Linked DNA regions of Homo sapiens: all the other regions are linked to region 1. The links come from fine-mapping of genetic effects on plasma protein levels. A gene starts in region 1. Each other region holds a variant in brackets. All regions are shown on one strand. Distances are between the middles of the regions. Region 1 holds the start of EPHA1 (EPH receptor A1). Region 2 overlaps EPHA1 (EPH receptor A1). Region 3 overlaps TCAF1 (TRPM8 channel associated factor 1). Region 4 holds the start of LOC112267988 (a long non-coding RNA gene). Region 5 overlaps TCAF1 (TRPM8 channel associated factor 1).

The links. PIP is the chance, under the fine-mapping model, that this variant and not a neighbour inherited with it causes the effect. Protein levels are from antibody-based Olink assays in UK Biobank. Linkage for the fine-mapping came from a reference panel and not from the study's own genotypes, which makes the PIPs less certain.
Region 2: its variant is fine-mapped to the plasma level of the EPHA1 protein (UK Biobank, PIP above 0.99). The variant lies in the coding sequence of EPHA1. If it changes the protein, the assay may bind it differently, which can mimic a change of level.
Region 3: its variant is fine-mapped to the plasma level of the EPHA1 protein (UK Biobank, PIP above 0.99).
Region 4: its variant is fine-mapped to the plasma level of the EPHA1 protein (UK Biobank, PIP above 0.99).
Region 5: its variant is fine-mapped to the plasma level of the EPHA1 protein (UK Biobank, PIP above 0.99).

What each region holds. Positions count from the first base shown.
Region 1 is chr7:143,406,420-143,411,419 of GRCh38, reverse strand. EPHA1 (EPH receptor A1) reads left to right here and starts at 2,564. Exons shown (of 18, transcript NM_005232.5): 1 at 2,564-2,696; 2 at 3,742-3,809. The coding sequence starts at 2,615. It overlaps EPHA1-AS1 (EPHA1 antisense RNA 1), which reads right to left and starts at 3,607. Exons shown (of 5, transcript NR_033897.1): 1 at 3,534-3,607. RefSeq lists an enhancer at 1,880-2,492.
Region 2 is chr7:143,396,816-143,401,815 of GRCh38, reverse strand. EPHA1 (EPH receptor A1) reads left to right here. Exons shown (of 18, transcript NM_005232.5): 3 at 211-492; 4 at 1,763-2,165; 5 at 2,403-2,558; 6 at 2,871-3,215; 7 at 3,368-3,495; 8 at 3,746-3,896; 9 at 4,159-4,255; 10 at 4,454-4,512. Among named protein-coding and RNA genes, the nearest start is that of EPHA1-AS1, 8.5 kb to the left of the region's middle. The variant C/T (reference allele first, on the strand shown) is at 3,060.
Region 3 is chr7:143,889,577-143,894,751 of GRCh38, reverse strand. All of the region lies in intron 1 of TCAF1 (TRPM8 channel associated factor 1), which reads left to right. All of the region lies in intron 2 of LOC105375549 (a long non-coding RNA gene), which reads right to left. Among named protein-coding and RNA genes, the nearest start is that of TCAF1, 10 kb to the left of the region's middle. The variant T/G (reference allele first, on the strand shown) is at 2,619.
Region 4 is chr7:143,838,944-143,844,118 of GRCh38, reverse strand. LOC112267988 (a long non-coding RNA gene) reads right to left here and starts at 5,168. Exons shown (of 3, transcript XR_007060571.1): 1 at 867-5,168. The variant TC/C (reference allele first, on the strand shown) is at 2,169.
Region 5 is chr7:143,895,711-143,900,885 of GRCh38, reverse strand. All of the region lies in intron 1 of TCAF1 (TRPM8 channel associated factor 1), which reads left to right. LOC105375549 (a long non-coding RNA gene) reads right to left here. Exons shown (of 3, transcript XR_007060574.1): 3 at 1-3,674. Among named protein-coding and RNA genes, the nearest start is that of TCAF1, 3.9 kb to the left of the region's middle. The variant A/G (reference allele first, on the strand shown) is at 2,425.

The sequences.
Region 1 (5,000 bases):
AAAATCCTGCTAGCTTTTTATTTTCTGAGACCATCCCTGAATATAGCCTCAGAAATCATCTAGGTCTAGGGAAACTGAAACCATGGTCCAGAGAACATAAATAATTTGACAAAAGTTGTACTGCTAGTTAAGAACAGAGACTAAACTTGAAGATGTGCCTCCTCTCATGACAAACTAACCAGAAAATGTCAAATCAAGATAATCCTGAAAGGAGACAGAAAGTGGACATTCATTCCCCATATGCAGAGACTTTCAGACCAGGATAAAGAGCCTATCCTAAAACAAAAAGCAAGACTTTTTTTTCCAGGGTTCTAGACTCCATGTCTCACTGCATGGAGCAGTCTCCCCCACTCCACACACCCACCCCCCACCCCCCACCCTCTGGAGTCCCAAGGGTCTTGTAACTTTAACAAACTGCAGCAGCAAGCACATGCATTACCTCACCACAGTCTGGCTTATGTCCTAGCAGCAATTGTCCAACGCTTGCTCCATTTCCCCCCTTCTGTTGGCTTTGTACCCTTCGCCCATTCCTCCCTGCTGAAATCACAAAGCTCTGACCCCCGCCAGCCAGCGTGAGCCTCCTCCTCCTTCCTGGAGTCTTTAACATTAGAAAAGAGGCCTCTGGTGCAGAGCAATGTGTGTCAGATGGCCCCTCTGTATACACATTTTAAAAGCATGTAAGTGTGGGAGTAGAGGGAGAGAGGGAGGGAAAAATACACGATGGTGTGTACACAGCGAGGAAGCAATCCTGGGAGGACTTACAAGAAACAGTTGATGGTGGTTAACTTGGGGAACAGAAATTAGAGTGTTGGAGGGCAGAGGGTTCTACTTCCCATTTTGTTTCTGTATGTTCAACATGAATTTCCTAACCAATGTACATGAATTACATTTATTTATGCAAATAAGGATAGTCTGAGCCAAGAACTGATGGGCCGTGTTTGTCATATACGTATCTGCATAAGAAAGCAAAAAAAAAAAACAAAAAACCTGAGAAGCATTACATTTTGAAAATGAGAAAAAGCACCTATAATCCACCACCTCCCTTCATTCACAGTACCGAAATGTGCAACAATGTAAATGATAGAAAAATTATGAACAATTTACCCAGATGGGATGGAGCGAAAGAAGGAGGGGCCAGGAGTGGACCCCCAGCCTCTTTAGTAAATGCATCACTCCCCTTTGAGCTACTGTGATCCCTGTGTGTACCTTGCCTGGGGTCCACTCCTGCCCGCCATTTCAATCATTTGTGCAATTATTTATGTCTCAACCCCCAGCATCCCCAAATTAATAGCTTATATAGGGCAAGACATTGTCCTTCTGTTCTTAGGTGCTTCTAGAGCTTCCTGCATGCATAGCAGAAACTGAACAAACATTTACTAAATAGAATATAAGAAAGTCTCGGCAGAGCGCAGTAACTCAGGCCTGTAATTCCAGGACTTTGGGAGGCAGAGGCAGGGAGATCACTTGAGATCAGGAGGGATCACCTAAGGTCAGGAGTTCGACACCAGGCTGGCCAACATGGTGAAACCCCGTCTCTACTAAAAATAGAAAAATTAGCTGGGTGTGGTGGTGCACGCTTGACGCTTGTGATCCCAGTTACTCGGGAGGCTGAGGCAGGAGGATCGTTTGAACCAGGGAGGCGGAGGTTGCAGTGAGCCAAGATTGCACCACTGCACTGCAGCCTGGGCCACAGAGCGAGACTCCATCTCAAAAAAGAAAAAGAATATAAGGAAGTCCGCAAGAAAGTGAGAGGGCACGTGGTTTGACACCACTAAGATGGGTTAAAATATCCTTCCCTGCCACCTGTGGCTGGAACCTTAACCAGATATTCATGTCTGCTGTGTAAGTGCATGTCAAGGTTCAAACTCCTTTTCTTGTTTACCCAGCCCTGGCCCACACCTGCCTTTCTGCCCTGATTCCCAAGACAAATCCTGCGCCCCAGCAGTCAAACTGGTCCATTCACCACTCCCTGGGCGCACCTTGAGGCTCCCTGCCTTCAGGCCCTTGCTGGTGCCTTTCCCAATCTCTGCCACTGAAAACCCAGGTCACACCAGCTCTCCCTGAAGACTCAACTAATGTGCCCCGATGACTGGGCTTGCTTCCTCTTCTAATCTCCAGATGCTTCACTGCAGGTTGTACCCCACCTTGCATTGTGGTCATCTAAGCCTCCCCTGCTAGAGGGTGAAGATATGACTCTTACCCCTTGCCTTCCCCGGCCCTATTACCCAGCTCTGGGGCCTGCACAAAGACAGAAAGAGGAATATAGGAGTGTAATTCAAGTCAGAGGTAGAATTAGGTTAAAAGCTGGATCAAGATTGGGTTGAGTTTAGGATTAGAATTGGGAAAAGGTTCGTCAATTCTTAATCCCACCTACTAGGCGGCGCCCGCAGTCTCATTCGGGTCAAGACGCCTCCGGTTCTTGAATTTGATTACCAGTCTAGCAAGTTTCTTTCCTGCCCTACTGTCCCTTTAAGGAGGTGAACCAGGTGAGGCCGGGACTCCGCCCCCGGCGCTGGCCCCGCCCCCCGCCCCCGCCCGGCCCGCCCGGCTCTCCTAGTCCCTTGCAACCTGGCGCTGCCATCCGGGCCACTGTCCCAGGTCCCGGCCCGGAGCTATGGAGCGGCGCTGGCCCCTGGGGCTAGGGCTGGTGCTGCTGCTCTGCGCCCCGCTGCCCCCGGGGGCGCGCGCCAAGGAAGGTACCGACCCCCGCCCCCGCGCCCCCAACCCCCGCGCCCCGCCCCTTCCCGGGGCCCGGCCAGCACCCCCCTGCAGAAGCCGGCATTCCTAGGGGCCATGTTCCCCGAGACCCTCGCCAGCTCTCTCGCTGTGCCCGACCGCCAGGCTATCGACTGGCCAGGCCCATCTTTGGTCTTTAACCCCAAGCGGCTGCTCTCCCGGGTCAGTCACCCCCACTCCCGCAGGCCAGCAATCTGCTCCTGGGAGTGGGGAGGGAATTCCGGACCCTTGCCAGGAAGTAGCACCTGCACCCGCACCCCTGCCTGCATTCCCAGACAGTCCCAGCTTCAGGTGCCCACCCCAGAGATCTGAGCCCTTGGAAGTTGAAGGTGGGAAGTCGCCTCCTGCCAACCTAGGCCAGGGACAGAGGGAGCTGCCTCCGGGAGAAGGGTTAGGACTGACGCCACAGGGGTTCCCAGTTGTCCGAGTCGAATATTCCATGTGAAAGTTGGAACACCCTCTCCGGCCTTACTCCCCCCCACTTCCCAGGCAGGTAGCTGTGCCTCTTATCCCCACTTCACGGCTCTGATCACTGGCCAGGTCAGGCCAAAGCAGGCTTCGGACAGTGGAGGTGAGCCTCCCTACCCAGGAAACCCCTTCTGAGGTCCCCGGTCCACCCTGCCCACTCCTGGCTAGCAGAGGTGAGCTCCTCCTGCCCTCCACGCGTTCCAATCCTGCAGCTGATGGGTGTCCCAGGACGCAGCAGCCTGGGTAACTGAGCGTCTCGTGGGGCTGCTCTTCTTGCATTGACTTTGGTCAAAGACCCAGCGCCCCAACCCTTGTCCCACTCTACCTGCCTTCCTTCACACACACAAAGAAGAGTGAAATCCCTGGAGCTCTTCACTCCTCAGTCCTGAGCCCTTTTTCTCCCCTAAGCCTCAGGAAGTCACAGCTTTTAGGAACAGGATGTTGCAGCCTGGGGCTGAGGCCCCAGAATGATTAATGTGGGCTGCAGGGGCACCTCCTCCCCCAGAGGTGACAGACTTCTTTTCTCCCCACTTTCAGTTACTCTGATGGACACAAGCAAGGCACAGGGAGAGCTGGGCTGGCTGCTGGATCCCCCAAAAGATGGGGTAAGTGTCGGAAGAGGGAAGGATCTTGGAAAACTCCTGAAGGCCAGTGGGAAATGGGGTGGAGAGGTGGGTGGAGGAACAGAGAAAAGAGCAGGAAAAACTGGAAGTGTCTCCTCAGGGAGGGGGAGAGGAGGCTGAGTCAGAGCCTCCTCAATGGGACAAGGGGTGGGGGGGTCAGACTTCACCTCAAGATGAACGCTTGAATGGCCTGGCTCCTCCAGTGAATACTTGGGAATATTGTGAATACAAGCTGATACTTGTGAGGGGGAGAGGAGCTCACATACCCGGGGAGAGAATGCACCATGCTGGGGATGGTTGAAGGCTGAGACCAGTGCTTTGCTTGGGGAGGGATAGAAAAGGCAGAAAAGCATCCTCAATCTGAGATCCATTCATCCCAATGAAGTTGCATTGATAGGTTTCAGGGGGTGGGGAAACCCCATGAAAGTGTACTCTAAATTCTGTATATGTAAGCGGGCATTTTTTTTTCTGGAGAGACCAGCCAAAGCTTTCATCAAATTCTTCAAAGGGTCTTTGACTCCTCCGAAGTTAAAAGCTGCTCCCCTAAAGGTTTCTGAGCCCTTAGCTCATCCTCCACACCTCCTCAGGCTGACTGCGTGCACACCATGCATTCCAGCTGTTTGAAAGTGTCAGAGCTTGTTCCAGTTCCCTTCCTTCCTTGGATGTTCCTAAGACTCAGTGAACAGGTTGTGAGGTGGGTCTGAGAGAGCATATTCAGACTCAAATGCAGAGAGCAGCTCTTATGATGTACAAAAAACCAAACTCAGTTTTTTCCTACTGCACTCTCAACACAAATCACTTCGGTGACCTGTGGTCACCAAAATGCGTGTAGGGATTCCTCCCGCCTGCAGTCAGTTCTCTCTGGCAGATTCTTCAGTGGACAGTAGCTGAGTGTCCTCTAATCTTATTCAGTTCTTACACTATCTACCTGGAGATAGCCTCAGGTTGAGGGCTCAGCCCCACAAGACTGCCCTCCTCTAGACAACAATCACAAGTAACATGTTGTCACCTATACTTCTGTTCCATCGGCTGTAATCAGGTTTACCTGACCCTCCTCCTCGGGTTCAATTAGTTTGCTAGGATGGCTCACAGAACTCAGGGAAACATTGACTTGGATTTACTGGCTTACTATAACGGTTATTACAAATGGTACCATGAACACCAGATGGAATA
Region 2 (5,000 bases), 9.6 kb after region 1:
GGGACTATTGTCTTGCCCATCTTATATCCAAACAAATCCCCAACCCTAAACACTCAGTCTACTGTCCTGGAGCTGAGGGGTGGGGAGAGGCAGAACAAGTAGCATAAACCTGAGGGGCTCTGACACAGCTGCTTCTCCATCAGCTCTAAAAACCAAGGGTTTGGGGAGCAGGGGATGATCTGGTCCCTGACTCTGATTTCCTCCTTGCAGTGGAGTGAACAGCAACAGATACTGAATGGGACACCCCTGTACATGTACCAGGACTGCCCAATGCAAGGACGCAGAGACACTGACCACTGGCTTCGCTCCAATTGGATCTACCGCGGGGAGGAGGCTTCCCGCGTCCACGTGGAGCTGCAGTTCACCGTGCGGGACTGCAAGAGTTTCCCTGGGGGAGCCGGGCCTCTGGGCTGCAAGGAGACCTTCAACCTTCTGTACATGGAGAGTGACCAGGATGTGGGCATTCAGCTCCGACGGCCCTTGTTCCAGAAGGTGCTGCTTCCCTCCATGCCATCTGGGTCCTGGTGCAGATCCCTGGTGGCTCCTTATTGGGTGCCAGAGAAGGTTGCAGAGACAGGAAGAGGGTGCAGAGGTAGAATCTTGAAAAGAATTTGGCGCTTGAAGGCTGGGCATGGTGGCTTGTGCCTGTAATTCCAGTGCTTTGGGAAACCGATGTGGGAAGATCACTTGAGGCCAGGAGCTTGAGACCAGCCTGGGCAACATAGCAAAACTTCATCTCTGCAAAAAATTAAAAATCACCTGGGCATGGTGGCCCATACCTGTAGTCCCAGCGACTCAGGAGGCTGAGGCAGGAGGATCACTTGAGCCCAGGAGTTTGAGGCTGCAGTGATCTATGATTGTGCCACTGTACACCAGCCTGGGCAACAGAGCAAGATCCTGTCTCTAAAGAAAAAAAGAACAGTGTGGCATTGGAAATCAGAAGGGCTGGATTTGAGTATCTTTTCTGCTGTGCCGTGACTTTGGGGGTGTCATTTAACCTCTCCAGCTTTTGTTGCCTAGTCATAAAATAGTGACAACAATAGGGCCAGCTATATCTATTTTATAGGCTTTTATAAGCATCCACTGAGATCACAGGATACCATGGGGAGGAGGGAAGTGTAGCACAGAGTTATTTAGACTTTTCCTATTGATACCCACGATGTTCATAAGCAACCCACTCCCATAGTATCACTGGAGTCATGTAGCAAGACAATTCCCTGCAGGCTAGTACTCTCCAGCACATCCCTTTCTTTCCTACTCAAAAAAACATCCTGGGATGCAGAAGAGTAAGGAGCATTTTATGATAGGATATGCTCTTGTTTCTTTCCAAAGAGAAAATGTTGTAAAATTTGTTACTAGTAATAAATTGATAACGATATGCTCTATAACTCATCATGTTATTGGCACTGAGTTTGGGAATGCCTCTGAATAGCAGAAATTGTATGGACTGTAGAGTCCCAATGCCTGGATTCCAGTCCTAGCCCCATGATGTGGTAGCTGTGTGATCTTATACAAGGTCTTTATCTTCTATTAGCCTTGGTTTCCTCATCTATTAAATAGAGACAATAAGCCATCCTACCTCATAAGAGGATTGCATGAGCTAAATAGCATAATGCACATAAAATGCTTAGCCTGGCACCTCACACATACAAGGCTCAGTGTTCATGGTTGTGGAAAGTATTAAGCAAACGATTGTTTCTGTTATGTGGGAAAGAAGCAGGACTTTGCCATTGCTCCCCTTTCTTCCCCACCTTCTACCCAGGTAACCACGGTGGCTGCAGACCAGAGCTTCACCATTCGAGACCTTGTGTCTGGCTCCGTGAAGCTGAATGTGGAGCGCTGCTCTCTGGGCCGCCTGACCCGCCGTGGCCTCTACCTCGCTTTCCACAACCCGGGTGCCTGTGTGGCCCTGGTGTCTGTCCGGGTCTTCTACCAGCGCTGTCCTGAGACCCTGAATGGCTTGGCCCAATTCCCAGACACTCTGCCTGGCCCCGCTGGGTTGGTGGAAGTGGCGGGGACCTGCTTGCCCCACGCGCGGGCCAGCCCCAGGCCCTCAGGTGCACCCCGCATGCACTGCAGCCCTGATGGCGAGTGGCTGGTGCCTGTAGGACGGTGCCACTGTGAGCCTGGCTATGAGGAAGGTGGCAGTGGCGAAGCATGTGTTGGTAAGAACGGAGGCGGTGAGAACCTGAGGAACCACTCGGGAGGATTGCAGGAGTACCCCGGCAGAGAAGGAGGCCAGTGCTCCGCCTCAGTGGGTTTTTAACCTGAGTGTCCCAGAGCAGCGGACACACACATGCAGAGATGTTTCCAGTAGAAGGGATTGGGGCAGGAAGGGGTGGTGGTGGTTCTGCCTGTAAAAACATTTACAGAACCACTGCTCTGCTGCGTTCTCTCTCCAGCCTGCCCTAGCGGCTCCTACCGGATGGACATGGACACACCCCATTGTCTCACGTGCCCCCAGCAGAGCACTGCTGAGTCTGAGGGGGCCACCATCTGTACCTGTGAGAGCGGCCATTACAGAGCTCCCGGGGAGGGCCCCCAGGTGGCATGCACAGGTGAGTCCAGGGGGTGGGGCGTGGCCATCTGGAGGGAGGGGCTGGATCTTTGCTGAGACTTTGTCAGGGTTGGATTTTTCCAGAGCTTGTCAGATATTGGAGATGGTCCAGGGTGTCAGGCACTTTTAGCCCCTGCCCTGGCACCCTGCTCTCCCTAGAAGAATGCAGAGATGTAGTCAAACCCAGTAGAAATCAAATCTCCCCAAGAGGACTTCAGAGGACATCGAGAATTGGGTGGTGGTGGAGGCCGGGGATCAGCAGCTCGGGTGACAGCGAGGTCGGCTTCTACTGATGGCTCCTCTTCTCCCACAGGTCCCCCCTCGGCCCCCCGAAACCTGAGCTTCTCTGCCTCAGGGACTCAGCTCTCCCTGCGTTGGGAACCCCCAGCAGATACGGGGGGACGCCAGGATGTCAGATACAGTGTGAGGTGTTCCCAGTGTCAGGGCACAGCACAGGACGGGGGGCCCTGCCAGCCCTGTGGGGTGGGCGTGCACTTCTCGC[C/T]GGGGGCCCGGGGGCTCACCACACCTGCAGTGCATGTCAATGGCCTTGAACCTTATGCCAACTACACCTTTAATGTGGAAGCCCAAAATGGAGTGTCAGGGCTGGGCAGCTCTGGCCATGCCAGCACCTCAGTCAGCATCAGCATGGGGCATGCAGGTGAGAGGCTGAGAGGGGCTGGGACAGGGACCTGGTGGAGACAGAAGGGCTTAAGACCACAGAACAAACTGATGGGCAGGAAGCCATAGAAAAGTTACTAAGGTTATTTCCTTTTTCCTTACATATCCAACCTTATCCCTCTGGACCCCCAGAGTCACTGTCAGGCCTGTCTCTGAGACTGGTGAAGAAAGAACCGAGGCAACTAGAGCTGACCTGGGCGGGGTCCCGGCCCCGAAGCCCTGGGGCGAACCTGACCTATGAGCTGCACGTGCTGAACCAGGTCAGGATGCTACTGAGAGATGGTCTTCAGTGTCCATGCCCGGGCACACCCCAACATTCCTAGCCTGGGGTGTGGGTTGGGAGGAATCCACCCGAAGTCCACTGTGTGGCTTTCTCAGGACAAAAGTCTATGAAGAACCCTGTCCTAACCATTCTGCTCTCCAGCCCCTCCCCATGTGCTCTGATGCTGTCCATCACATCCACCCGGGTCTGGCTCAGCACTGCCCACTTAATGCAACTCCAACCCACAGGATGAAGAACGGTACCAGATGGTTCTAGAACCCAGGGTCTTGCTGACAGAGCTGCAGCCTGACACCACATACATCGTCAGAGTCCGAATGCTGACCCCACTGGGTCCTGGCCCTTTCTCCCCTGATCATGAGTTTCGGACCAGCCCACCAGGTGGGGTATCTTGTGCTCTGCCCCAACACACATACACCTGTTGCCTCACTGAGGCAACTCAGCTCCTGTTCCACGTAGTGACTTTTCCTCTTCCTCTACACACATGCACACACACTCCCTTCTTCCGGGGGTAGGGGACAGACACCGACCTGATGCACACTGAAAGGTCTGACCCTAGGTGTACCCAGGGCCCTGCCCTTTAACCCCCCTCATTCCTACGGACTGTGAGTCCCAACACTTCCTCATCCCTTTGTGCCTACAGTGTCCAGGGGCCTGACTGGAGGAGAGATTGTAGCCGTCATCTTTGGGCTGCTGCTTGGTGCAGCCTTGCTGCTTGGGATTCTCGTTTTCCGGTCCAGGTGCCAGCTCCTGCCCCCTCCCCAACCACCAGCCCTGGGTCAGAAGCCCCTGACTGCAGCCCCAACGACCCTCCCATCCCCTAGTATCAAAACCCATCCTGCACTCCCAGCCCGTTTCTGGGGAAGATTCAGCCAGAGTCCCTCGGACCCCTGAGGTGGTCCTGGGGCCCTGAAGGAGCTGGTCCCCAACCCCCACAGGAGAGCCCAGCGGCAGAGGCAGCAGAGGCAGCGTGACCGCGCCACCGATGTGGATCGAGGTGAGTCGGGTGCACCTGCGTGTGTCCCCACATGCGTGTGCACACCTGTGTGTGCGTGTGTGTGTGTGTTGGGAGATGCCACTGGGAAGGGATCAAGGGACACATTTGCTAGGCCAACTCTGGGGGCACATGTGGGGTTTGTTGTCCCCAGGGCTCTTGTGTTTTGCTACCTAATTAACTTTGGTTAATTAACTATGTACTGGTAGCCCCCCAGTGGCTCTGATGCAATTATCTGTTAGTGTCCGTTCACTGCTGGTGCCGCTGTCTTGTCACCCTGGGCTCTGGACAGCCCTCCCCATCCTGGAGGCCAGGGCTGTGGGCCGAGGCCAGGCGGGAGGAGGATTGACGTCCTCCGAGGCTTATGAGCTTCTTGCTTGTCACCTCATTAGGTGACCCACAAAGGGGAGAGTGAGGGGTCCATCCGGGCAGCTGGGGTGGGAGCCATGCGCGGCTCTGTCTGGGAATGTGAACGAGGTGTGACTGACCAG
Region 3 (5,175 bases), 480 kb before region 1:
AATAAAAAGAACCTCTTTATTTAATTTTTATAATATCTAATTTTTATTGTTAATAAATCCAAACATTTATGCTTAGGACTTGAGTTGTATTGACGAGAATTTTGCCTACCTCTAGGTCACAAAAAGATTCCTTATGCTTAATAGTTCTACCATTCACATTTAGTTTTATAATTTATCTCAGAGTATTTTTTGTATATGATATGAGGTATGGGTTAAGGGTTCATTGGTTTTTATATAGACATCTAATCAATCAAGAACTACTTATTGAAAAGGCATTTCACACCATTAGACTTTTTGAATCTATGTTCATTGAGTAATATTCGTCTCTAGGTTTTTGTTCTTATAATGTACTTACGAGATTTTGCTATCAAAGTTATGCTGGGTGTAATAAAAATGAGTTGGGAAGAGTTTCTTCATTTACTAGTCTCTGGAAGAAGTTTTATGATATTAGTATTATATTTTTCTCAAGTGTTTAGAAAAATTCACCATAAAAATCCTTTTGGGACTAAACTTTTTTGCAGAATGTTTTTGATTTTGGACTGCATTTTTTTTATGTATAGGATTATTTATATTTTCTGCTTCTTCTTGCTGTTTTGGATAAATTATGTTGTTTAAACAATTTGCAAATTCATCTGAGTTTGTTAAATTTATTGGCATATGATTACTTGTAATATCACTTTGTTATATTTTTAATGTCTTTTGGGACTGCAATAATGTCCCCTGATAATTATAATGGATTCTCTCTCTGTGTCTCTTTATTGATCATTCTTAGTTTGGTTCATTAAAACCAACTTTTGGTTTTACTGAATTTCTAAATTTTTTAAAATTTGATTCTTGCTTTTATGTTTATTATATTCTCTGATTTACTTTAAATTTGTTATTCTTTTTCTAATGTTTTGAAATAGTTTACTTTCAGTCTTTCCCTTTTATTAATGTATGCATTTAGAGCTATAGAGTTTTCCTTTATTAAGTAATTCCTTTATTAAGTAATTGCTTTTGCTGCCTCCTGCAAATTTTGATAAATTGTATTTTAATTATTATTTAGTTAAGATATTTTCTAATTTCCATTGTGATTTCTTCTCTGACCTAAGGGGTGTTCAGAAGTGTGATCCTTAATTTCCAAACGTGGGAATTTTCTAATTAAATAAATAAAAATTATTTATTTCTGGTTTAATTCCATTAAGATCAGAGAATATATTCTACATCTTTTTGAGTTTCTTGAGACTTGCTTCATACCCAGTATATGTTTTATTTGAGAAAATGTTTGACACGCACTAAAAATCATGTATATTCTGTTGTTGGTAGGTGTATATGTACCATATGTGTCAACAGGGTCAAATTTGTTAATTATGTTATTCAAATCATGTATATCCTTACTGATTTTTATGCACTTGTTTATTCAGATTACTGAGAAAAATGTACTTAAATCTTCAACTATGCTTGTGGACTTGTCTTTTCTTCTTTTATTATTGTCAACTTTGCTTTATAAATTTTGAAGTTATTAAGGATACAAATTTAAAATTTTTGTATTGCTGTACTGAATTGATCCTTTTATCATTATGAAATTTGTTTTATATCTACAGTAACACTTGCTGACAGTAATGTTTACTTTGCCCATTGTACATAAGCCATACTAGCTTTCTTTTGGTTAATGTTTGCTTGGTGTACCTTTTTCCATCCTTTCACTTTCAATATTTCTCTTCTAAATGAACTCTTTTTCTAATTGGATTTTTAATCCATTTATATTTAGTATAATTATTTATATAGTTGGTATCTTAGTTGTTTTGGGCTGCTGTGACACAAATGTGATAGACTGGTGGTTAAACAACAAACATTTAAAGATAAACCAGCAGATTTAATGTCTGGTGAGGGCTGGCCTCCTAGCTTATAGACAGCTACCTTTCTCACTGTATTTTCACATGGCCAAGAGAGGGAGCTCTAGTCTCGTTCTCGTCTTATAAAGATACTAATCCCATTATGAGTGTTTCACACTCATGACATCATCTACATCTAATTACCTCCCAAAGGCCCACTTCCTAATACCATTCCATTGGGGGTTAGAATTTCAACATACAAATTTTGGAGGGACACAAACATGCAATCTATAAATATTGGGTTTAAGCAAGGTTGCAGTGAGCCGAGGCAGCAGTGAGCCAAGATCGCACCACTGCAATCTAGCCTGGCAACGGTGACACTCCTTCTCCAAAAAAAAAAAAAAAAAAATTGGGTTAAAGTCTACCAATTTGCACAGTTTTCTCTTTGTTCCATTTCTTCTTTGTTATTTTCTCTTTTCTTGATTTCTTTCGAATTCAACACTTTCTATTAATTTTTCTTCAATATTTTGAATTATAATTTTTTAAATTATTTTAATGGTTACTTTAGATATTACAGTTCACCTTATTGATTTATTATGACCTACCTTAAATTATTACTTCTATGTATTCTCAATGCAAAATTTTAAGTTTATCTCCATCTTGCAGCTGTACTATTGTCTGTTTTATTTTTTATATGCTTCTGTATTCCATAAGGCATTTTGTTTATTTAAACAGTCAATATTCATTTATATTTGCCTATGTATTTACTCTTTTCAGTGTTCTCTATTAATTCCTACAGCACTG[T/G]ACTTCTATGAGGAATAATTTTCATAAAAAATTAGTTTTAGTAGTTATATTCTAGTGGAAAATGCTTTCAGCTTTAGTGTATCTAAAATTACATTGCCTTTATTTTTGAGGAATATTTTTCTTGTGTATAGAATTTTAGGTTGGCAGATTTTTCTTTTTCTTTCATCTTTTAGGAATTCTGTTGTGTTCTTATTTTCATCACTCTTTTGAAAAATTAGCTGTATTTTTTGTTCATTTAAATGAAAAGTATCCTTTATCTCTGGCTGCTTTTCAGATTTTCTCTATGAATTTGGTTTTCAGCAGTTTGAATGTGATGTGTCTCAATGTAGTTTTCTTTCTGTGTATTCTGCTCGGGGAACATAAAGTTTCTTCAGCTTGTGGTTTGATGTTTTTCAAATCATTAATTGATAACATTTTGCTTGTTTTATTATCTCCTTCCTTTCCGTCTGGGACTGTGATTACTCATGTGTCACAACTTTTCACCCTATCTCATAATCCTGTTACACTCTTTCTGTATCTTTTGATCTCTTTGTGTATCATGTTTTCTTTCCTCTTATGTTATGTATGGATACTTTCTACTTACCTTTGCTATACTTCACCAATTCTCTGGTCTTTTGTGTCTAATATGCTATTAAAGCAATCTATTAAGTACCAATTTTAATTATTATTATTTTTCTTTTTTAATTTTTCATTTTACTTTTTTATGAGTTTTATTTCTATGCTGAAATTCCACAGCCTTGTTTCTAATTTCTTAACGTATGAATCACAGTTAAGTTCTCTAAGAACTCAAGTATCTGAACCACTTGTGCCTGTGTTTATTTTCTGTTATTTCTCTTGAGTTATTGGCAACTTATTCTGTTTTTTTAACTGCTTTCCTAATTTTTGATTCAATGCAGAATATTGTGGATGAAAAAATATAAAGGTTTTGATTGATGTTATTTTCTTTCAAGAGGATTTTTTGGGGAAGTGGGCAGATAAAGTACCAGCAGATTACTTTGATGCTATCAAATATTAGTTTTAGGCTTTGTTAGGACTAGCCCATTTAAGGTTTGATCTTTCTCCAAGAACATAGTCTTTAAACCATAAGATATGCTTCTTCATATGTCAGGGATTTTCTTATGTGTCAACTGAAATCATGGAGTGTTTATTAGAATGTTTCTTTTTGTTGGGGCATAAACTCCATTGCTTTTCTCAGAACAATATAACCACTGAAATGACTGCTCAACTGTTTAGCTCTTTGGCCACTATTTCCTACAAGTTTCCTTGAGGTCTCTCCTATTGCATGCATAGCTTAGGAATCAGCCAGTGACATTAGGGGAATTCATATATAAAATTTTAGATTAACTTGTCTGGTTTCTTCATGTCTGAAACTTTGCCCTTTGAGCTCCACCTGGTTTGATAGTCTTGAACCAGTAAGACTGACACTTCCTTTTCAGCCTCAGTAACCCTGCACTGTAAAATGAAAAATGCCCGAAAGTAAAAAGCAATAGCGAATATACAACTCATGTCCTGTGTTTTCTGTTCATCAAGGATTATAGTCCTTTTGTCCTGTTTATGTTGTTTACTTTTCTGAGTCTTCAGTTGGTTTCCTATATTTTGTTGAGCTTTTATTATTGTTTCCAATGGGAGGATTATTCCAAAGATATGAGGGAATTTCAAGAAGTTTGTGGGAATAATGGAATTAAAAATTTTTTGAAAAATAAATGTTGCCTCAACATAAGCCCCTTCAAGTTCAAGACACTTTTGTAAGCAGTGATAACAGCAATTTAGTCCATCACTAAGAAACTGAAGGTCCTAGGAATTTAGCCATGTAGATACAGTATTTTTACATTATTAACCAAACAAAAATGGGTGCCCTTCTCCCAGCACTTTGGGAGGCCGAGGCGGGCGGATCACAAGGTCAGGAAATCGAGACCATCCTGGCTAACATGGTGAAACCCTGTCTCTACTAAAAATACAAAAAATAAAATAAAATAAAATAACTGGGTGTGGTGGCGGGTGCCTGTAGTCCCAGCTACTCGGGAGGCTGAGGCAGGAGAATGGCGTGAACCTGGGAGGCGGAACTTGCAGTGAGCCGAGATCGAGCCACTGCACTCCAGCCTGGGCAACAGAGCGAGACTCCGTCTCAAAAAAAAAAGAAAAATGGGTGCCCTTCACAGATTTTTTGAGATTAGGAAACGAAGTCAGAAGGAGCCAAATCAGGACTCTAAGGTGGATGCCTAATGATTCCCCATTGAAACTCAAAATTGCCCTTAGTTGATGAGAGGAATGGGCAAAGTCATTGCCATCGTGGAGGAGGACTGTCTGGTGAAGCTTTCCTGGGTGTTTTCCTGCTAAAGCTATGGCTGACTTTCTCAGAGCACTACAGTAATAAGCAAATGTTATCATTCTTTGGTCTTCCAGAAAGTCAACAAGCAAAACACCTTGAGCATCTCAAAAAACTGTCACCATGGCCTTTGCTTTTGACCCATCTGCTTTTGCTTTGACTGGACCACTTCTGCCTCTTGGTAGCCATTGCTTTGATTCTGCTTTGTCTTCAGGATCATACTGGTAAAGC
Region 4 (5,175 bases), 430 kb before region 1:
GGCCTTAGATGTTGACTCTTTTTTGCCAACAAAAGTAGCAGACTCTATCCCTTCTTTCAAGACTATTTCCCTCCTCTGTTCTCTACTCCTTACAAAGCCTTTGTACTCCTGCTTGGCTTCTACTCTTAAAATGATTTCTTTCTTTGACCCACATCATTGCAGTCAGTCTTCAATAGGGAGTGGGCAGAAGGTGATCTTCAACTTCTCAGAGATCTTTCTTCTAACTACACAAAAAAACAACTTACCTCACAATCAAGACAACTAAGAAATGCTTCCTATGCATTTGGATTCTTGTGCATTTCAGTGCTATAAAGAAGCATTTCTTTGATAGGAAAGCTTGAGTAGCTTAAGTTATTGATGTTCTAGTCTGAGACTGGGTGCGTTTCATAGGTGCTCATTATATTAGAAATAAATAGAATAAAGGGATGAGTAAATAAATGAAAGATAAATAGAGGTTGGGAAGCAACTGCAACTTAAAAAAAAAATGTAGTGACCAATGATGACAGTTAGGAACCAAGGTTTATTTTAATACAAATATGTGTACCTGAAGGTCATTAAAAAGTTACTTCTATTCTTAGGAACTCAAATATACATAATTGGTTAAGAAATCTGTACATGTAGGTACTAAAAAAATATTTCCATGAATCGCTTAGTGACATAAAATTCATTTTTCACATACTGCCAAAATTATTTAGAATATTTAAAGTCTGAGATAGTGCCCAAAGGGGGTTAGGGGAGGACAAAATGATCAAACATACAATATAAAAACAATCTATAAAAGAGTCTAGAAGAGATCTCACAGGTTTAGAGAGAAGACCCCTCTTCTTCCTGAACAGACCCCGTAGGCCAGGGCCCAGCAGGCTTACCTATTGTCTGTGGTTTCTGTGCTGCAAACAGGAGCCTAAAACCTGCAAATAGGTTATAAACCTTTTCTTGACCCTCCACCAAGGTAGATAGGCAAGTGGAGCTTTAATAAAACAGAGTTTTTCCTTTTCTTCTTGCTGCTTGTGTAGCCTTGGAGCCGACCTATTCCAAAGGAGAAAATAATAAGCCTTAATTAAGGCTTTTGACATTTAACCACAAGACAACTGGCACTATGAGCTTGTTGCTCTCAACACCTAGAGCAGAGTTAAATCTCAGATCCTCATAGAAAACTCTGAGATAAACTATTTCAGCTGGCAAAAGCATTAAAAGACAAACAACTGACTTGTGTCCGTAATGTTAGAGTGACCTTTAGCAGAAAGCCTGGTGGATCTCTAGCACTGGTAAAAGTACTTTTGGCTATAGGGCATTATTAATGTTATTAACGCACTAATAGTACATAATATTATTAATGCCCTACAGCCAAAGACCAATGGAAACACACCTATAATTAAACAAGTTGAATCTGTTGTTCATTGCAGCTAGGGAAAATGCACACCATAGAGAACTGTGGGTATATCAGTAAAAAGGTGTCAGAAAGAACCTATTATAGGCTGTGGGCTTTGGTTGGATAGTTTTGGGAAGTGTCTGAAGAAGGGAGACTTTGTTTTGGATGACATACTGTCAAGAACCAGAAACAATTCTACAACTACGATCTCAATACATATACAAGGAGAGCTGACTAAAATAAGCATAAAGGCTGGGCGCGGTGGCTCACGCCTGTAATGCCAGCACTTTGGGAGGCCAAGGTGGGCAGATCACCTGAGGTCAGGAGTTTGAGACCAGCCTGACCAACATGGAGAAACCCCGTCTCTACTAAAAATACAAAATGAGCCGGGCATGGTGGCGCATGCCTGTAGTCCCAGCTACTCAGGAGGCTGAGGCAGGAGAATCGCTTGAACCCAGGAGGCTGAGGTTGTGGTGAGCTGAGATTGCACCATTGCACTCCAGCCTGGGCAACAAGAGTGAAACTCTGTCTCAAAAACAAACATAAATAAAATGAGAATAAAGCTGCGATTGGTTTCTAAAACGTGCAATTACTCATTTTAGATAACAGAAGGATGATCAGTATTTTGTGGGTTGCATGGTGATCGTGTATGTGCCTTACTTTATGACGGTCTCTGAGTGACCTTATCTGATGTTGATGTTTTCTGAAATTGTTTTTGTACAATGGGAGAACAATATGGCCTCGCTGTTAGCGCCAGACAAGTTTCTGGATGGCAGGAGCTGCTGCTTTTTTTTTTTTT[TC/C]TCAGTTCAAAGGTTTAAAAAGGGAGAACCTTTGCTCTTCTTATAGAGATTCAAGTCTGCATTTCTCTTGATTGACCACAAGGGACAGACTGAAAAAAAAAATAATAGCAGAAAGTATGCATGATGTACCTTGGGAAAGGATAGTTCCGTACAGATCCCCTAGACTTGGTGGAAGTCTTGGGGCAAACCAAAATGAAATTAAGACTACACGTCTCAATATATAGTGAAAAGCCTTGAGAAGGAATGATCTTGATGTCACAGGAACTTTGTAATTAGTCCACTGGGAAATAATTGTTTACATTTTCAAATAAGTAAATAAATAGACAATAATAGTCGCTGGTCCCATAGGAGTAGGGATTTAGACTCACTCTCTGTAGGAATTTTCTTATATAGTATTGACCTACTATGACCCTCAATTCCCATACACTATCCCCCGGCATATTGATATCTACAACCCTTGTGGGATTGTGAATGAAGACATTTATATTACACTGATGTAGGTGCAATTAAAGAAAATTGGATCTACTGAGCACCTGTCCAATGAACCTGATATTTCAAAGGCAGAAAGAGAAAAAGGACATCCACTCTCATTCTTGGGCTAACTCAGTTCCACTGGCTCCAAGACAACTGAAATCTTCAGGACAAAATCAAACTTTATGTCTGGTCTGGTGGTGGGAGAAACAGTTTATAAATGTAAGAATATCTCTTCTCACCCCCACCCCAGCCATGTTCCTTACTAGAGGAAGAAAGTTTCAGTACCTCTGGAGTGGCAGTGATGTGTTCCAAGACATCCTCTGTGATTGGAATATAACTGGCTCTTACCACGTATGTTTCACACACTTATGATCCAAACAGAAAAAAAAAATGTATGCCCAAGTATATTTTACAGATATGCCAAAAGCAGAATATGAAAACTTTTATAACTCTGAATTAGGGCTGGCCGCTTGTCAAGAGAAGCAACAAACTCCCCCATTGCTTCAAAGTTCCACTGTTTTCAATGAAGACGCAGGCAGGAACTTGCCCTTGGAGATAGACCATGCTACAATTGGAATAAAAGTTATTATAAATGTACTAAAGAATGAAACTTAATGGGTGAGTGTTTCATAGATACTCTCAAGTTAGTAACCTTGCTTTTTACTTCCACTACAACACAATTTTAGTAATTACACTTGAGAGATTTAAAGTGAGGAGATATAATTATGACAGTACTTGTGTTATTCTGGGTCCTCCAAGAAGCAAAAGCCAAGACAGGATCAGATATGCGAGAGATTTATTAAAGGAAATGCCTGTGAGAGAAAATGTCGAGGGAGCCAGAGAAGGCCGGGAGAGCCACCATTAGACTGCAATGTAGGTTTAACCCTTGGGAAGGAGACAGCAAAGGAAAGACAGGCTTCCACTGAAGTACAGGTCTCAGAGAGTTTCTTTCAGGACCATGAGGAGTCCTTGAGCCAAACTCACCTATCGGGAGAGTCCCATGTCTTCCAGGAATGGGCCTGCCTGAGGATCCTCACTACATTTGATCACCAGCCTGGAGAAGCCCCTGGCAGCATGGCCTTGGCGCCAAGGATTCCAGAGCACACCAGCTGGGGCCATCTGGCAATTTCATACCCACCCCCTGCAGTTGGACATCTGAGAGGAACATTTTCATCACCACCATAGTACTCATTCTTAAGGCAGCTGTAGACACCTGTTCTGGATCATCTTAAATAGTGACTTAGTGAACTTCCCCAGTGACTCATACCAGTAAATGTCCATAGGTGGATTCATCCATCTCTGTTCCTAAATTAGAGTGTGGCTAATTCTTCCCAGATTCTTAAGGTCCTTAAAAGAAAGAATATATGGTACCACATTAAGTTAAGCTCATGACTGAAAATAATTTAAGAAGGAGGCCAGTGACTATTAATAGTAGCCCACAATTAGAAGGCATATGTATGAGTAACCCCTGCATCTGGCTTAGTGATAAACTGCAATTACTGCAGCAATTGCTCTCTATTTGACAAAAAATGGACTCATGTACCACTGGTAAAGATAATATTTCTGATTTGTGTTTGCCTCTTGTATATGCTGGACAATGAAGTATAATATTGTTTATGTATATTTATTACGTATAACCCAGAAAGAGTCTGTCATGGAAGCACAAGAAGTATGAGTTAGCCTGCCTGATTTAAGCTAATACAGATCTATCCTTGGAAATGGAGATGAATTCATTGTCCCCTGAATCTCATAAAGGAGAGGTGGATTATCTGATTTAAAAAAAAAATGGATTTGGTTAGAAAGGACAATAGGGGTAGTGTAGGGAATAGATGTTGAGGAGGCAACCACAGTGTTTACTAAATGGTGCTTTTAAAAAATCTTCCTCCACACTGTAGAATGGAATCCAAACTCCCTAGTATGGCAGCCAAAGTCCCTCTAAACCGAGCCCAAACTTCTCTTTAGAGCTAGCACTATGCAAGTTCTGCTAACAAGTTTCAGTCACTATGAACATTTTGTCTTTCTCAAATTAAGCCTTTCACATTCATATCTCTGTGCTTTGGAATCTTATACAGCCTCACATTGTAATACCTTCCCCTTTATCTCCCCGCAAATATACATTTTTCTAAGCTGAGTTTCTGTGTCACCTTCTGTGCACATTCTTCTCTAATCCTTTGATCAGAAATAATTGCTGCTTCTTTTATGTGCCCTTGCACCTGATTCGTAGCCAATTTTGGTATAGTTGTTTTCTTGTCTTTTTTCCTCTCTAGATTTACTGACCATAATAGCATTTCTATCTCCCAGAGTGCCTCACAGAATAAGTGTCCAGTAAGGATATGTTGACTTTCACTGAATGGCGTCTGTTTTCTCCCAAGTAAAAGGAAAGATCTGGGGCCTGCACCTTTGCATAAGCAGTAACCATTTCGAAGCTTATCCAACCCACCTTATTTTCGTTGTTGTTGTTGTTGTTCCGTTTTCTTTTATTTTAGGTTTCTAGCTGCCTGAACTCACGGTTTTTAGTTTCTGTCTCTAGTG
Region 5 (5,175 bases), 490 kb before region 1:
ATCCTGTACGTATTCTTAAGTTTTATAGATTCATCTTTCATGCTTCCTTCCATTTTCGTTTTCGTCATTTAAGGTGTAAATGTACATAATTTATCCATTCTACTGCTGATGGACATTGGATTGTTTCTACTTTTGGAGGTGTATGATTTATCTATAAGCTATGTAACAAATTACCCCAACACCTAGCAGCTTCAAACCAAAGCGAACAAACAAAACAAGTCCTGTTACCTCCTATCTTACAGTTTCTGTGATCAGGAATCCAGGAGGGGCTTAGCTGGGAGTCTCTGACTCAGGGTCTCTCACAAGCTGTATCAACAATCAAGGTATTGACTGGGCCTCAGTCATCTCAAGGCTAGGCGTAGGGTCGAGGACCTCTCCCAGGCTTACTCACATGACTGCTGGCAGGCCGATTGGCCTCACTGACCCTGGCTGTACACATCAGTTCTTTGCCACATGGGCCTCTGTATAAAGAATGGTTGCAACATGGCAGCTTACTCCCCCCAGAGAGAAGGCTCCCACAGAGAAAAAGAGAAAGACAGAAGTCAGATTCTTTCTGTAACCTCAGAAGCGACATCCCATTATTTTTGCCATTTTATATTCATTAGAAGTGAGTCCCTAGGCCCAACTCACACTGAAGGGAAGGGGGTGACACAAGGACATGAACACCTGGAGGCAGGGATTATCGGGGCCACTTTAAAGCCTGCCCATGTCCTCTAATATTCAAGTACACTTGTGTGGGAGCTTCCCTAGAGTATATAGCTGGGAGTAGAATTGCGGAGTTATAAGATTTATGTGTATTCAATTTTATTGGGTCATTTCTAAACTTTCCAAAGTGTTAAACCAGTTTGCACTCCCTCCAGCAGTGGATGAGCATTCTTGTTGCTCTACATGCTTGCCACAGCTTAGTCTTGTAAAATTACATTTTTTGTCAGTCTGGCAGGTATGAAATAGCATTTAACTGTGATTTTAACTAGCATTTTCCATAACTAATGAGATTGACTTTTTATATGTTGATCAGTGCTTTCTCTTTGTGAAATTCTGATTCCTGTCTCTTTCATTTTTGTATTGGATTGTTTGTTTACCTTTTTTATTGACTCATTGGAATGCTTTCTTTATATAATCTGGGTACGAAGCAGTAATTGTTAGCTATATATGCCACAGACATCTTTCCAATTTGCTTTTGAGGTTTTCTTTCTCTCTATGTCTTTATATCTGTTTCTTTCTCTGTTTCTATCAATGAATCTAAGTTTTGAATTTAATTTCAAGTTAGTAGTACTTTCTTTTATAGCTTTTCTTGTTTGATAATTGTTTTCTCAAGATCATAGATTAATTTTAGTGTATCGTTTTCTAAAAGTGTTATAGTTTTGCCTTTGGCAATTAGTCTTAATCCACATGGAAACTGATTTTTATGTTGTTTATTCCATATGGATAATCTGTTGCCCCAGCACCAGTGATTTGCATGAATCAGGATTTCCATATAAGCATGAATTCGTTTTAAGCCCCCATTCTTATTTTCTATTTGTCTAACTCTGCCTCAATACTAAATAATTTTTAACCACTATAGTTTTATTAAAAGCCTTGAAATTTGGTAGGAAAAGTCCTATCACCTGTTTCTTCTTCTTTAAGAGTGTTTTAGCTTTACTTGGACCTTTGACCTTCCATATAAATATTTAAATAAACTTATCAAGTTCTCCAAAACAAGAAACAAACAAGCAAATAAACCTGTTGGAATTCTGATTGATAATGGATCAACTCTGTGTCTTAGTCTGTTTTGTGCTACCATAGCAGAATACCTGAGACTGAGTAATGTATAAGGAACAAAAATTTATCAGCTCACAGTTCTGGAGGCTGGGAAGTCCAAGATTGAGTGGCTGGCATCTGGCAAGAAAGAGCCTTCTTACTGTGTCATTCCATGGCATAAAGGCAGAGAAAGGCTGAAAGAGAGTGTAAAAGGAGGGTGAATGCCGCCTTTTATAATGAACTCACTCCTACAGTGATGGCATTAATTCATTCACTCTGCTGTCATGACCTGATGGCCTCTCATTAAGCCCACCTCTTAACACCATTGCATTGGGGATTAAGTTTCCAACACCTGCTTTTTGAGGGACACATTCAAACCATTGCACTCTATAAATTATTTTGGGCAGAAATTATTTCTAAGACATTGGCCCTTTTCCTCAATGAACATGGTATATGACACTATTTAAGTCATCTTCAATGTTTTGTACTATTTTTTATTGTTTTCTTTTGGCTCAGTTTTTGTTAAATTTCTAGGCACGTCATATTTTTACTGCTATTGTAAGCATTTTCTTTTGTAAAAGTTATATTTTGTAGTTTATTGTTGCTGGCATACAGAAATTCAGTTGCCTTTTATATATTAATTATATATCAATCAAACTTGAGAAAATTAATAATTCTAAATTT[A/G]CCTGTAGCTTCTTTCAGATTTGCTACATAGGCAATCATATCATCCGAAAATAATGATAATTTTGTTTATTCGTTTCTAATTCTCATACCTTCAATTTATTTTTTCTGTCTTATGACAATGACTAGGAGCTCCAGTACACTGTTGAATAAAAGTAATAAAGGGCATCTTGTTTTGTCCTTAAGATAATAATGAGAAATATTTCATTATGTCAACTTAAAAATGACATTTGCTATAGTTACTTTGTAAATGTCTTCCCCATCATAAGAAAATTCTGTTCTTCTTTTGGTAAGCACTTTTATTATAAATGGATGTTTTTTCAAATGCTTTTCCTGTAGCTGTTGAGAATATATATACTTTTTTTCCTTTAACTATATTAACAACATAGTAAAGTATAGTATTTAATTTCTGATATTAAACCAATTTTGTATTCTTGGAATAAACCTTTTGTGGTAAATATGTAGTAATTTCTGTATGTGGATATAGATACAAAAGGTAAACATTGGATATTTATATTTATACGTGTGATTTAAGATTGGCATGTAATTATACTTTTCTGTACTATCCTTTTCTGATGCTGGTATTATCATAAAATAATATGAATAGTATTCTCCCTTATGCTATTCTTTGGAAGAATTTGTGCAAGATTGGGATTATCTGGTCCTTGAATATTTCCTTGAATCACCTGTAAAATCATCTGTGTTTGGAGTGTATTTTTTCAGAAGATTTTAATGATTATAGTACTATTTAGGTTTTCCTATGGAGTCAGTTGTAGTAAATTGTATTTTCCAAGATATTTAACAATTTCACATATACATGAATGTATCAGTATACGTACATGTATATGTTTATTCAATATATATAAATACATTTGACCATTGAACAATGGAGCAGTCGGGATACTGACCCCCCTCAGAATTGAAAATTTGTATATAACATTTGAGTCCTACAAAACTCAATACTAATAGCCTACTAATGAGTGGAAGTCTTACCAGTAACATAAGCAGTTGATTAACACATGTTTTATATATGCATTATATTCTTAACTAGAGAAAAAGAAAATGTTATTAAGAAAGTCATAAGGAAGAGAAAACATATTTACCATTCATTAAGTAAAAGTGAATCATCATGAAGGTCTTCCTTGTCATCTTCACATTGAGTAGGCTAAGGATGAGGAGGAAGGGAGGAGTTGGTGTTGCTGTCTTTGGGGGTGGCAGAGACAGAAGAAAATCCAGACCAACGCGGTTCAAACCTGGATTATTCAAGGATGAAGTGTTTATATATGAATATATATATATATATATATATATATATATATATATATATATATATTCAAGATTAACAAAATAAAACTGTTTATAAAATCCTCTCATTCTGTTTATAAATCTTTCCATTATCTATTGATATGGCCACTTTTTCATTGTTAATATGTGTACATTTTCTCTTTTTGTTTTAATTTTTCCAGAACATGGTCTACATTATTAGTTTTTCAAACACCAACATAAAAGCTTTATGTCTTTTTCTAATTTTTACCTATTTTATTACTTTCTTCTTTCTTTGAATTTTTTCTGTGATTTATTTTCTAAGCTTTTAAATTATATGCTTAGCTCATTAATTTTGAGCTTTTCTTCCTATGTAAGCTTTTAAAGCTATACATTTCTATCACTACTTTTTAGCTACATCTGACAAGTTTTGATATGATTATTTTTGACCATGTAGCTTTAATTATTTATAATTTTCCTTATAGTCTGTTCTTTGAGACATGAATTTTTTATAAATGTACCTTTTAAATTCCATTTGGCCATATGAAGTTTCTTTTGTTATCTTGTAGTTGTAGTTGCCTAATTTATATTGTAGTCAGAGATTGCATAGTGCCAATTCTTTTAAATTCGCTGAAGCTAGCTTTAAAACCCAGTAAGTTTTCTTTGTGTGCGTAAAAAGAATGTGTAGTCTGTAATTACATGATGTTCTGTGTATCAACTGTTTTAATTATACAACCCAATCTTACATATCTTTAACTTTTTATTTGCTTGAGTTGCCAATTACAGAAATAGGTATGTTAAATATTCTCACCATGATGGTGGATTTGATAATTTCTCATAAATGTATATATTTTTGCTTCATATATCTTGAGGCTATGTTATCAGTGAATTGTTGTAAATTGAACATTTTATCATAATGTAGGGACCTTACATTATGATACCTATTAATGTTTTCTGTTTTAAAATCGTATTTTTTTCAAAGATCAAATCAAGGTTTCTTTGGTTTTTGCCTCATTTATCTCTCTTTTATCGTTTGACTCTAACTCTTCAGAATCTGTTTTAAATATATATGTAGTAAACTTATTTGGATTTTTTAAAAGTCTGGATTTTTAAAATATTGTTTGACAATTTATAACTTGTCATTGAATAATCTGTGTATATTTATTGTGATTAGTAATACAAAGTTAGATTTATTTCTACCATCTTATTATTTGCTTTTTATTTTTCCTGCCTTTTATGTTTCTTTCCCTGCCCCTCCCCCCACCCATTTTTTTCCTTCTTTCTTTCTTTGCCCATTTTTTTCTTTCTTTTATTTGGAAGTTACATGTCTTAGTTCTGATGTTTTAATTTTATAATAGGTTTAACGCATATAATTCCTAATTTTTAAGATGTTTAACTAGTTTTATAACAGATTTAATTTAGCATACTTAAGTTAAATTGATCCTTAGTACCTTGTCTCTTACCCCGCAAGTATCAAATGATTATTGTTAT